2 linked regions of the Homo sapiens genome follow. The protein of the gene in region 1 interacts with the protein of each later gene in a pairwise test. Each region holds a gene or a part of one and is shown on either strand. Other genes may lie near its edges.

Evidence for each region. The genes of interacting proteins can lie anywhere in the genome.
Region 2: the proteins of ZC4H2 (region 1) and ZNF223 interact in binary tests that used the Homo sapiens proteins (3 or more experiments, as listed by UniProt).

What each region holds. Positions count from the first base shown.
Region 1 is NC_000023.11:64,917,419-64,924,456, forward strand, and holds part of ZC4H2 (zinc finger C4H2 domain-containing protein), read right to left. Parts: intron 4,826-7,038; exon of another isoform or gene 4,571-4,825; coding exon 4,399-4,570; intron 2,836-4,398; coding exon 2,663-2,835; intron 1,787-2,662; coding exon 1,624-1,786; intron 479-1,623; coding exon 365-478; coding exon of another isoform or gene 346-364; 3' UTR 1-345. UniProt on the Homo sapiens protein: Plays a role in interneurons differentiation. Involved in neuronal development and in neuromuscular junction formation.
Region 2 is NC_000019.10:44,062,013-44,068,514, forward strand, and holds the end of ZNF223 (zinc finger protein 223), read left to right. Parts: intron 1-1,305; exon of another isoform or gene 1,306-1,554; intron 1,555-4,051; coding exon 4,052-5,265; 3' UTR 5,266-5,987; downstream 5,988-6,502. UniProt on the Homo sapiens protein: May be involved in transcriptional regulation.

The DNA.
Region 1 (7,038 bases):
GGCCTCCCCTGCCCCTCAGACCCTACAGCTCCTTAGGCTCCAGGCCTCAGGCACAAGAGATAGAGAATCATATCTGAGCCTTTTGCCCTTCCCTTAGCTCCAAACAAGGGCAGGGGTTGAAATGTGAGTGGGAGAGAAGGGATCATCAGACACACTGTTTAGCACCTGAACCACATCTCTTCCTAAACCAGAAATCCCAAGAGCAGAAAGAAATAGGAGCAAAGTGAGAGAGGGGTTGTGCTTCCATCACATTAAATAGGAGACTTCGTGGGGTTGGGCAAGGGTTGTTTCACATCAGGACATCAATGACTCTGGTCAAGGTGAGGGGTTATAATTAGCAAAGCTTCATGTGCTCTCCCTTTCTTTATTCATCCTGCTTCCGTTTCGGCTTTTTGGGGTTCCGGGACCGACTCTTGGCCTTGCAAAGAGGGCATATAGGTGCATTCCGGTGAATTTGCTGGTGACATGACAAGCAGGCCTGGTGAGGGACACAGGAAAAAGAAAGTTAGTAGTCAGATTCTTCCAGGCAACAACTTAGACTTCTGATTCCCCAGGGGCCCAGAAAGCAAAGTGATTTCCCATCAGAAGAGAGCAATAATCAGTGAGTAGACTCAAGTATTCTTGGATGCCATGGAAGATGGGAAGGAAGGACATAACCCAGTTCAGAGAATGGTGTTGAGAAAAAGTATACAAAACTAGAAAGTAAGGCAAAATGAGAACTACACATCTTTTCGTCATTATAATGAAGCATTGTCTAACAGGCCCACTTAAGGACTATTTAATTTTCTAGAACAGGGGTCAACAAACATTTTCTGTAAAGGCCAGGACAGCAAATACTTTAGACTTTTTACATCATATAAACTTGCTGCAACTACTCAATTCTGTTTTGCATGAAAGAAGTGATAGACAATAGCTTGCATGCATGTTGTTTGCAATAGCTTGCAAACACAGACATGCATGTGGGCCAATAAAACTTTAACGAAAACAGGGAACAGATTAGATTTGACCTGTAGGCTGTAATTTGATGACCCCTGCTCTAGAAGAATGTCTCTTTGTTTGACTATTTACCAATTGATTAGGACCCAGGCTCTGTGATGTTACACTGATAAGCTGCAAATGGCTTTTGCCCAGTAGAGATGCAAATTACTTCTGTTTGGAAGAAAAAGTAACTATAAAGTTACAGTTTTATTGTCCTGTGGGATGTAAACCAGTTTTGCATCTAACTTTGCAAATTTGTTTCAGCCTTCCTCTCCTTTCTTGACTATATAGATATTTGTTCCAAATGCTCCTGGAACCAGCTTTATAATCCTGCTGGTTCCCTCATTTATGATACATGCTCATTACATCTTTGTGTAAGAGTCATTTCTAACTTTTAGAATTGCACTCTAGCAGGGCCTGAAAATCTCCCTGCATTCTAACACCTCTGGGAACATGGGGCAACAAAACCTGTGCTGTGTGTGTCCAACACAGCACACCCATGTCACCCCTTCCACTGTGTCACAAGCAAAGGCCATTAAAAGAAGGCCCAGCATAAATAAAGCCAAAGACCCAGAACTAGCCTTCCACGGCCCTTCCATGGGAGGATACTTTGCTTCCTCCACAACCATTACCCAGCTCACTTACCTTCATAGGTGGGGGCTGCTGCCTGAAGGTGGCCGTCTGCCGAGTATCCTGCTTCCTAGCCACTTGGAGCTGTTGGGCGGCAGCGGCTGCAGCGGCCAGGGACTCAGGGATGGGGGGCTCCTGAGGTTCTGTCTGCCATTCTGCTTTCTGCTTCTCAAAGTAACTTTGGAGATGAGAGACACTGGCTAGATCATTCTGAAAGCAATGAGAACCTTGCTCCTCTTAAAGACTCCATGCCATACAACCAAGGGTTGAGCTGTGGCTCATTCTAGAAGGTCCCCACACCTTCCCAAGCACAAGGCTATTGTCCCTGGGTACTAGGCCCAATGTCTGATGAGAAGGGTAATCCTCTTTGTCCTTAGCTCTGATAGGCCAAGAAGACCAAGAAATCTTAGGGCTAGCAAGATCCTTAAAGGGTATTCAGTCCTATCTGCTATCTCATGCTCTTTTGAGTATTCCTATTAAGTGTCCTAAGGCCTCTGGTGACATATCTCTAAGAGTAGGAAGCTCACAAACTCCACAGACACCTTGCTCTACCTTTAGGAAATGATTTCCTCTACCAGGTCAAATTCTGTCTCTCTGCAAGGCAAGCCTAGTTCTTAACTCTGAGCCAGGAGATGAAGTAAGTCCCAGGCCACTTCCTGAAGACCAGGAAAGCTCAGTCTTTTTTGTTTTTAGAGGTTTCTAGATATCGCCTTCTAGACCCTGACTTGGGAAATGATCTCTTAAGAGTTATAGACATAGTCTTGTATTGTCAATATCACACAAAGAATTTAAAAAGCCACCTAGTAGTTGTTCTAATTCATCTAGTAATTCATCCAGTTTAATAATCCTCCTTCTGTTTTAACAAGCTGGCACAGAGACTTGCCCAAGATCACACAGTGAGTAAGCCACTGAAAGGCCTGGGACTAAAACTAGGCACTCTGACTTTCAGGCTAGGCTTTGTGTATGTATACCTGCCCGTGTGTGTGTAGGTATGTAAGTATGTATGTGGGTCGGAGGGAGGGTATGTTGTAGGGACTGGGGGCAGGTAGCTTACTCCAAGGAAAGCTTCTCCTCTTCTTCACACAAGTCAGGGAGCCTCTGCAGGCCCAGAGTCATGCGCAGGGCATCCACATGTTCTTTCAGTGGCTTATACTCATCATGCAGCCTCCTTGTAGACTCTAGCAGCTTGTTTAGGTCATTCTCAGATTGTTTGATAGTGTTTTCCATCTGGAACATAGAGTGGGATAGGCACAGAGAAAAGATCCTAAGGTTCTCAGAGAGGATCTATAGCTGAGTGAATAATAGCACAAGCTCCAGAACTTGTTCAGTCTATATTCAAGTCCTTGATCTCCCATGCCCTCTCCATGTAACTCTGGTCAAGTCTCAGTTTCTTCATCGGTATAATGGTGATATTCTAGTGCTTAACTCATGCAATCTTGGTGAAGATGTAATGATAGGATTCATATAAAGCACTCAGTAAATGGGCTAAATTAATATTTACTGCTAAATAAATGGTATTGTTCAAATATAGTATCTTAGAGCTGGAATGTCCTTCAGAGCTCATTTAGTCCACCTTACTCCCATTTTATAGAAAACTGAGGCTCAAAGAGAAAAAGGGACTTTCCTGGGGAAATACTTCTTAGTATCAAATCCTGCATAAAGACTTAGGGCTTCCGCCTCCCAGGCCAGCAGTCTTTTCTCCTAGATCAGTGATTCTCAAAATGTGGCCAAGGGATCAGCAGCATCAGCATCACCTGGGAACTCAGAAATGCATATTCTTAGGTTCACCTCAGACATACAAAATCAGAAAATCAGGGGTGGAGTCTAGCAATATGTGTCTTAGGCTCTCAAAGTGGCTTTGATGCATGCTCAAGTTTGAGATCCACTGGCTTATATTCTTAGCCCTTCTGGCAAATATCTTCCTCATTTAACTGGCCCTGTATCATTGGTTAGCTGGCAGCCAAACTGTCAACACTTTATGAGATCTAGAATTCTGCGATCTCTAACACAGAAAATCCCAATTGCTTACTGTCCAAACCTCATTCATATTTCCTTTATGATCCTAGGTCTGACAACATCAGAAAATGAGTATTGCCACAGAAATGAGTTTTCCAGAAATATAAACTTAGTTCCTTTGAAAGTAAATTTTAAAAATATATTCTTCATGGTTATGGGTGATAAGGGTTTGAAAAGACCTTACTGGTCAGCACTGCCAACCTCCTTCCTTGTGAAGGAATCATCAGTACAGTAGCTCATACAAGTGTCCATTAAGATGCTGCTTGAATAATTCCAAAGAGGGGAGCTTACCACCTTAGCAGACAGTTCATATTCTGTGTTCCAAGAGTTTCCAAAGGATATATCAATGAGGAAGCTCCACTTTGGTAGCAGGCAGAAATGATTTGTTTGGTCTGACTGAAAGCTTGGAGTGCTTTAAACTACATTCCAGAGGCAGCTGCCTGCTCTGCTTTTCCCCAAGGCTAGCTCTCAACTCCCAGAATCCCAGAATGAGAGCACATCAAATCAGTACATTTAGAGGGTACTGAGTCCCCCTTATAGTGCAGAGAGGGAAAATGAGGCCCAGAGAGAAGGGACTTGTCCAGTGATATATAGTCAGTTAGTGACAGAGCCAGGGCTGGATCTCAGAACTCCTGAATTCTTCTGCTCTACCACAGCCTGCACTGATGCCTGCTCCCCGAGCTAGGCCTAAGCCACATCTCAAGGAAAGGCCCTATCATTCACCACTACCTCTTTCTCAAAGGCTTTAGAGATAGGCTCCAGGCAGCCACGTACCACATTGATGTCAGCGTGGATCAGTCGGAGTTCCTCCACATGGGCCATCTTCTCCTGTAGCAGAAGGTCCATCTCCTGCTTGTATTCCTTCAGGTGCCTTTCCTCTGACTCAAGTGCCTCAAACTCAGCCTTCAAACGAGCCTTGATCTTCTCCATCTGCAGGGTCTTGTTCCTGCAATTTGCAAAAAGCAGGAAACAGGCCAGCAAAAGAAGGGAGAAAATAGAAATGGAGCCAGGACTTTTTTTCTAAGCCATCTTTACAAGCTTCCCCCTCTCCAGGCAGAGCCAACCTGAGGCCATCTCAAAAAAGAAGGCCAGGTGCAATGGCTCATGCCAGTAATCTCAGCAATTTGGAAGACAGAGGCAGGAGGATCACTTGAGCCCAGGAGTTTGAAACCAGCATGGGCAACATAGTGAGACCTTATATCTACAAAAAAAAAAAAGAAAAAGAAAAAAGAAAAAAAAAAGAAAAAGAAAAAGAAAAAGAAAGAAAGAAAGAAAGAATTAGCCACACATGGTGGTACATGCCAGTAGTCTCAACTACTCAGGAGGATAAGGCAGGAGGATTGCTTAAGCTATGATTGCACTACTGCACTCCAACCTAGGTGACAGAGCAAGACCTTGTCTCAAGAAAAAGTTAGGAGATGTTTCCCTCTAAAAGCTCAGTGGGTCTCGAATGGGGTTAATTTTGTTCCCTTATGGGGCATTTGCAAATATGGAGTGTTTTGGCTGTTAGATTGACTCAAGGAAATGTGTTACTGGCATTTAGTGGACATGGGCCAGAGATGCTAAATAGCCTCTCAATGCCCAGGAAAGTCCTGAACACAAAGAACTCCCACCCAAGAAACCAAAAATGATCTCTTGAGAAACTCTAAGTAAGCACTGTCCAATAAACTTACTACAGTGATGGAAATGTTTTGTATCTGTGCTGTCCAGTATAATAGCCACTATGCACATATGGCTACTGAGCACTTGTGATGTGGCCAGTGCTACTGAGGAACTGAGTTTTGAATTTTATTTAATCAAACTTAAAATTTAAACAGCCACGTGTGGCTACTGGCTGTCATATTAGACAGCACAACTCTAGAGGGTGTGTTTATCAGTTCCAGAAAAGGAAGGGGAAAGGATATTATGGGTAATTTCTTTCTTAGAAAAAGAAAAACCTGGTTTTGGTCATTAAATCCCAATTGTATACCGTGTGGCTCAGGAATCCTATACTTGGGAATATATTTTAAGGAGGTAATTCAAGGAAGCAAAAAGTTAATACACAGAGGTGTACTTTCTGGGCTTTCAGCAAAATTAGGATATTTGACAGCCACTGAAGACTTGTGACATAGAAAATGTTGAAGATAAGATACTCGCTGAAAAAGTGTACACACTAAGATTACAATTTCAAAACATACATGGATGTGACTAAATAAGAAAAAGATTTGGAAGAAACACAGTTTCAAGGGCCTTTAATAACATAATTTGAAGCCTGCCTCTGGGAAAGGGCTACAAAGTTTTGAAAGGGGTACCCTCTAAGGCATGTTGTTGTCTTCCCACTGGCTCCCTACCATGCTTCTCAGGATCTGCCTAGCCATTATCCCCTTACTCAGATTTGTAGTCTCCTTTCTTCTCCCTCAGTAGCTGATCTTCCCCTCTGCCCCAGTCTATCCTATGGGTGATCCAACTCCACACACTGGACTCTGGCTTCTGCCATCAGCCTGCTTGTCTTCAGTCTCTCTTTTCTTGACATTGCCTGTGCCTCTTGCCTCAAGAGGTAGCCTTCAATGGCACAGAACTACAGAAAGAACTGTTAGGTGGGTAGGATGGTGGGAGAAGTTTCTCTTTCTATACTAAGAAAACATCTTTTCATGTTATTGTATTTTTTTTTTTTTTGTAACCTTAGAAATGGGTTAAAAGGTGGGTGTTATCCCATTTGTAGAGAAGGGAATTGAGTGAGGTTCAGGGTGGTAACTTGCCCAGTACCACAGAGCTAGTAAATTGGATGTTGGGATTTGAACCAGGGCTCTCTAACACCAAAGCCTACATACCATCCATACCATCCACTACTCTATATTGCCTTTGAACAGGGTTACCAGGCTGAAGGGCATAAAAACATCAAGGGTTCTTGTTATAGCTCATCAACTGTCTTGCAGAGGGAAGATACTGATTTGTATTGGTTAATTACTTATTTGCTTATATCCCCATCTATCTAGACTTCTATTCTCCTCCTTTTCTAGGTTACGTGAAGATAAACCTGAACTTTGCCTGCTCCTGTAACCATTTTACCGATGGGAAAACTAAGATTCAGAGTAGTATAGTGTCTCACCCTAAGTGTCATACAACCAGTTAGGGCAGTGCTGGGCCAAGAACCTATTTCTGCAGACAAAGTCATATCATAAAAGAAGCATGCGCTTTAGACTCAGACTTCAATTATAAATCCTGGTTCTGCCTCTGATTAACTATTTGCTTTTGGACAATAATAACAACTGTATTTTAACTATATTTATTGAGCACTTACTATGTATTAATTATAGAGGGTTTCAATATATATTCAGTCAATAATTATTTATTGAATACTTATCATGTGCCAGGCATTCATTGTACTAGGTACTAGGGATAGAGCAGAGAACAAGACAGTATATAGACAGCAAG
Region 2 (6,502 bases), on another chromosome or scaffold:
TATCTGTTTGTTTATGACTGCATCTTCAGTGCCTAGAATAGTCCTAGTACATGGAGGGATCTGTAAATATTTGGTATCCTGATGAATGAATTAATGGATGGGGGGACTTCACTGTCTGTAGGAATCATGGAGCTAGCTAATAAGTAATACATGAACCAGAGTGTATGAAATATATTAGTCCCTTGGAAGCCATAGGGGTTTGATTTCAGGACCCCACATGGATACCGAAAGCCAGAGATGTTCAAGTTCCTGATATATGTGAAGTCTTTGCCTATAACCTATGTACATCCTCCCATATACTTTAAATCATGTCTAGACCAGTTATAATACCAAATGCAATGCCTACCTGTCACTTCATTCACAAGGATTCAACATAGGACTCAGTGTGTGAGAAATTCCAGTTTTGCTCTTTGGAACTGGAATTTTTTTCCCTAAATATTTTTTATGTCCTGTTGGTTGAATCCATGGATGCCAAACCCATGGATATGGAGGGCTGATTATATATTGCAGAACAGATTTTTTTTTTCTCTGTGGATGGCTGCTTATCCATTTTCAACTTTCTTAGGTTTCCTTGACATGATTGGTTTTATGTGTGTGCAGTTGACCCATGTCCTGTGGAAACTTCTAAGCATAGCATTTTTTTTTTCATGACCACACTGAGTAATATGCCTTCCCTGGGACCTACCCTGGAGCTTTCCATAGGGAGCATATTTATATCTGAGAAGAAAGTCTTTTTGAATGAGGATTTGCAGCTAGCTTTCCTTTGAGAGATTTACCCATCTGCAGCCCATTTGCCTTTTCCAAAGTCGGCCCACACTTCACTGCCTCCAGTTCCTCCTTCCTTCCCTTAGAGGGGGAAGAATGAGGATGAGAGGACACAAGTTATGTAGCTGAATGTTGACTCTGTTTCTGGTCATCTTTCTTCAAAAATGTGCGTATTTCCCTTTTCTTTACATTATGCAAATTTAATTGTCAAAAAGTTAAAGGACAGGCTTTTTGTTTATTTTTATAGATTTAGTGCTATATTTTGAACTAGTAAGCTTTATGACCTGGAAGGAATTGGGGAATTACTTACTCAAAATAGAAACATCCTGAGACCCCTTCCCATCTCCTTAAAGACCTCTTATTTATAAGTCACAGTGTATTAAATATATCCATGTACCTATTAGACAGGATTGTTCCCTTGACCATCTTTGCGGGCAGGAACTTCAGGGTTTGTTTCACTCAGCCCACCGCTGTCGATTCCTTGCAGGAGGGAGTGTGCAAGCGAGCAAGTGCAGGAACCGGAGCAAATGAATGCTGGAATTGGCTGGTCGCTCCTCTCTGGCGAGAGCAGGCTCTGTTATGCACGCCCCACAGCAGTGTCCAAGCATGTTACAACCCATGCTGTTTCAGCTCTGCCATCTGGGGATGGCCAAGTGCCAATCAGCTCAGTGGAGCATCAGGGTAGCAGCCCCTGCCCTCTTGGCACCTGGGTTCTTGTCCAGCATCCAGGAAGAACCAGGTCACATGAACTGTGTGAAAGGTGATGAACGCAGAAGACTTTATTGAGTGGTGAGTGGTTCTCAGCAGAAAAGGAGGCTGGAAAGGGGCTGGGAAGGGGATCAACATGTTCCTGAAGCCAGGCCATTTGTGGCTGGGCCCCTCTCCAAAGCAGCACCTTCTGAAGTTAGCCACATCTATCCATACTTTCCGACACTCAGTTGCTTCTCTGCTCACCGCTCAGCGACTTGTATCCTTGCCACTCAGCTGCTTGTGTTGCTCTGCCAGCTGAAATCTTTTATGGTCACAGGATAGTGGCAGGCAGGCCAAAAAAAGCAACATTGGGGCAGAAAAATGGGGTCATCTGTTTTCACTTAGGGCTGAGGTTCTAGGCTTAAGGGTGGAGTTTGGCTAGGTATACTGATGGGTACCCACTTACCTATTAATATTTTCCAAGTTTCAACCTTTGGAACTTAACTCTCCATCAGAAAAATTTACCTAATTCAGGACTTGGTAATATCCTGACAAAGTTTTGAACATTTTGTGAGCATGAACCATAATAAGAAACACCTCTTTCAGTATAACCTGGACAGTTTTCATGCATGTAGGTGTATGTGAGTGACTTTAGCTGACATTTCATGTAACGACACCTTTCCTGCTTGTCTCCACACTGTGATAATTTTCATTCTGGCTCCTTTCTATAAATGTCTATTGAAGGTTTTAACTTTATTTCAGCTCACTGATGTGTAGTCTTGAATATAAAAACAGTTAAAAAGGCCTGTTTATCTACATCATAGGCTTTCTTTTCATTCCAAGTGATTCTTCACATCATTGATTGTCTGATGAAGAGCATCCTCCTTTGTGGACCTCTGGAAGGACAGCCTTTCAGATTCCCCTCAGAACTGCAGTTGTCTGTCTCTGTACTCTTTCAGATAACCAACTTATCATCCATATCAAAACAGAAAAATAAGATTAAGTATTTTATATGTGTCATGCAAAATTCTTGTATAGGAATACTTTCGATTTGTAGATATAAACATTCTAAGGTGTTTGATGTTTAGTATCATGAAGGGTTAAACTAAAAAGTTTAATGGGACATTTTACAGAGAACTGCTCTCACTTCACTCCAAGTGCAAATTCGGCAGTTTTTCAAAACTACCTTCACATTCAATAATTTCCTAGAAAGACCCTCAGAACTCACTGGATGTATTTATTCTCACAGTTACTGATTTTTACAAGCAAAAGATGCATATTATAGTTAACCAAGGGGGAAAAACCAAATAAGACAGAGTCCAGTGAAGTACCAAATGTGGATCTCCTATTGTATTCTCACAGTAGAGTCGGGCATGTTACATACCCAAAATTAGCATGTGACTTAGACACAAGGAACCACCAATCAGGGAAACTCAACTGAGTGCTGGGATCCAAGTAATTATTGGGGCTCCATTACATAGCCATAATTGGTTGGTTGATTCCTGTGTGGTTATTTAGTCTTTTGGTCCACTGGTTCCCTGTGACCTAAAGACCTACATTAAATCACATCGTTATTTTTTCTGACATGGGGAATGCCACCTGCCATTTCCCATCCCCCAAAGCTGTGGCTAGTCACAACCCTAAATTATATTATTTCACTGTCAAGAGTTACCCAAGATTTGCCCCCAAGCAAACAGAGAGACTCTCCTCAGGCATGCCCCTTCAAGATTCTACAGATTACCTCTCAGATACTGAGGACAAAGTCCTGACCTCTTTTTAGTTAGGTTAACTCCTTTTCTTATTTTTAAAAATGTTTTTTAAGCCATCTTAAACTGAAAGGAAGGTTAACTTCTTTATAAGGATATATAATATACAGGCAAATATACGAAGTATTTATTATGTTACTGCTTTCCCTTAGAGTTCCTTTTGATTCATATTTCATTACGTACATAATAGTTTAGTAATTTATCATGTAAAATTTCAGACTGAGTTGGAAATTTTAAAAACAGTAACAGGTTAAATGTATGTGTCATATTAATTTTTTATTAAACCTTTTATTTCTATCAATGATTTTTTATTTGAAATGTGGTATGTTTTTTTCTTTCTTTTCTTTTTTTTTTTTTTTTTTGAGGCAGAGTCTCACTGTGTCGCCCAGGCTGGAGTGCAGTGGCACGATCTCGGCTTGCTGCAACCTGCGCCTCCTGGGTTCAAGCAATTCTCCTGCCTCAGCCTCCCAAGTATCTGGGATTATAGGTGTGTGCCACCACACCTAGCTGATTTTTGTATTTTTAATAGAGACGGGGTTTCACTATGTTGGTCAGGCTGGTCCCGAATTCCTGACCTCAAGTGATCTGCCTGCCTCAGCTTCCCAAAGTGCCTTGGTCTCCCAAAGTGCTGGGATTATGGGTGTGAGCCACCGTCCCCAGTGACATGGTATGGTTTTAGATTACTCTCATGCAAACCAGAAACCAGGGTGCACTTGGAAAACACAAACTGAACATTCGTTGAAGTTTCATACCATGTCCTAAGTGTGAACTCTTAAAAACACTGAACAGGGCATAGCTTGTCCTGATCTCTTAATTTTGTATTCTGATAGGAGGCAAGATCCAACCTGAGATGAAGACTTTTCCAGAAGCAGGACCACATGAAGGGTGGTCCTGCCAGCAGATCTGGGAAGAAATTGCAAGTGATTTAACCAGGCCTCAAGACTCTACCATAAAGAGCTCTCAGTTCTTTGAACAGGGTGATGCCCACTCCCAGGTTGAGGAAGGACTATCTATAATGCACACAGGACAGAAACCTTCCAATTGTGGGAAGTGTAAACAATCCTTCAGTGATATGTCCATCTTTGATCTTCCTCAGCAAATACGCTCAGCAGAGAAGTCTCATTCCTGTGATGAGTGTGGAAAAAGCTTCTGTTACATCTCAGCGCTTCATATTCATCAGAGAGTCCACCTGGGAGAGAAACTCTTTAAGTGTGACGTGTGTGGTAAGGAATTCAGTCAGAGTTTACATCTGCAAACTCATCAGAGAGTCCATACTGGAGAGAAACCTTTCAAATGTGAACAATGTGGGAGAGGCTTCAGATGTAGATCAGCACTTACAGTTCATTGCAAATTACACATGGGAGAGAAACATTATAATTGTGAGGCATGTGGGAGGGCCTTCATTCATGATTTCCAGCTTCAGAAACATCAGAGAATTCACACAGGGGAGAAGCCATTCAAATGTGAGATATGTAGTGTGAGCTTCCGTCTTAGGTCAAGTCTTAATAGGCATTGTGTGGTCCACACAGGAAAGAAACCAAACAGCACTGGGGAATATGGAAAAGGCTTCATTCGTAGGCTGGATTTGTGTAAGCATCAGACGATCCACACAGGAGAGAAACCATATAATTGTAAAGAATGTGGGAAGAGCTTCAGACGGTCCTCCTATCTTTTGATCCATCAGCGAGTCCACACTGGAGAAAAGCCATACAAATGTGACAAGTGTGGGAAGAGCTACATTACTAAGTCAGGTCTTGACTTGCACCATAGAGCCCACACAGGAGAGAGACCTTATAACTGTGATGACTGTGGGAAGAGCTTTAGACAGGCCTCAAGTATTTTGAATCATAAGAGACTCCATTGCCGAAAAAAACCATTCAAATGTGAGGATTGTGGAAAGAAGCTTGTATACCGGTCATACCGTAAAGACCAACAAAAAAACCACAGTGGAGAAAATCCATCCAAATGTGAAGACTGTGGGAAGCGCTACAAGAGGCGCTTGAATCTTGATATAATTTTATCATTATTTTTAAATGACACGTAAGTGTTGTACATATTTATGGGGTACAGTGTGATATTTAAATATATGTATATGATGTATAATGATCAAATCAGTGTAATTAGCACATTTATCACCTCAATTATCTCTTTTTTGTGTTGAGAAAATTAAAAATTCATTGTTCCAGCAGTTTGAAAATAAATTGTTGTCGATGATAGTCACCTTTAGTGCTGCAGAACAGCAGAACTTCTTCCTCTTATCTACCTGTACTTTTGCATCCATTAGCCAACCTTTGGCCATCCCACCTATCCCTTACCCTTCCCTGCCTCTAGAGCCACTGTTCTCACTACTTCTAAGAAATCAGCTTTTTAAGCTTCCCCATGTGATTGAGGACAGTTTGAAGTTAGTGTTTCAGCCATAGCTCAGCATACCCCAGTGGTCGTGGGACTGTCAGAGCAGAGAATGCTGCAGGGTTTCTAACAGAAGTTTGACAATTAGTTATTATTCAGGAGACAGGTCTTAGTATAAGAGTTTGTTCACACACTTTCAAAACACTAATGATGAACATGTCAAAATTGATGACCACTAGAATGTCAGCCACATGTGTCTTTGTATTTTTGCTGCATCCTTACATTGCTTGAGTCTGGAAGATTGAGGCTGCACTGACCTATGGTAGTGCTACTGCACTCCAGCCAGGGCAACAGAGTGAGACCCTGTCTCCAAAAAAAAAAATTAAATAAATACCTTTCTTTGTTTCTAGACAAGCATCTCTCTGTGTTTCTGGAATTTTTTTTTTGAGTGTACATACATAGTGTGTTACAATTATATTCTTATTTTCTTCAGCAGTGAATATTTGCTGGTATTTTTCTATTTTATAATTGTATGCATTATTTTTAGATTTCTCAGTGAACATCAGAAACCCCATCTCTACAAGAAATACAATAATTAGCCAGTTGTGTTGGTGTATGTCTGTAGTCCCAGCTGGAGACTACTGGAGAGGCTGAAGTGGGAGGATCGCTTCAACCCAGGAGGCAGATATATATACAAATGGAATAGAAGTGAGAGTCCATAAAGAAACCCATACATCTAAGGCCACTTGATTTTCAAGAAGGATCCAAGATTACTTTATGGAGACAGAATAGTCTCTTCGACCAATACTGCTGGGACACCTATACACAGACACACAACATAATGAAGTTAGATTGTACCTCACCCTACACTTAAAAGTTAACTCAAAATTCATCAGTGACCTAATGTAACAGCTAAACTATAAAAGTATTAG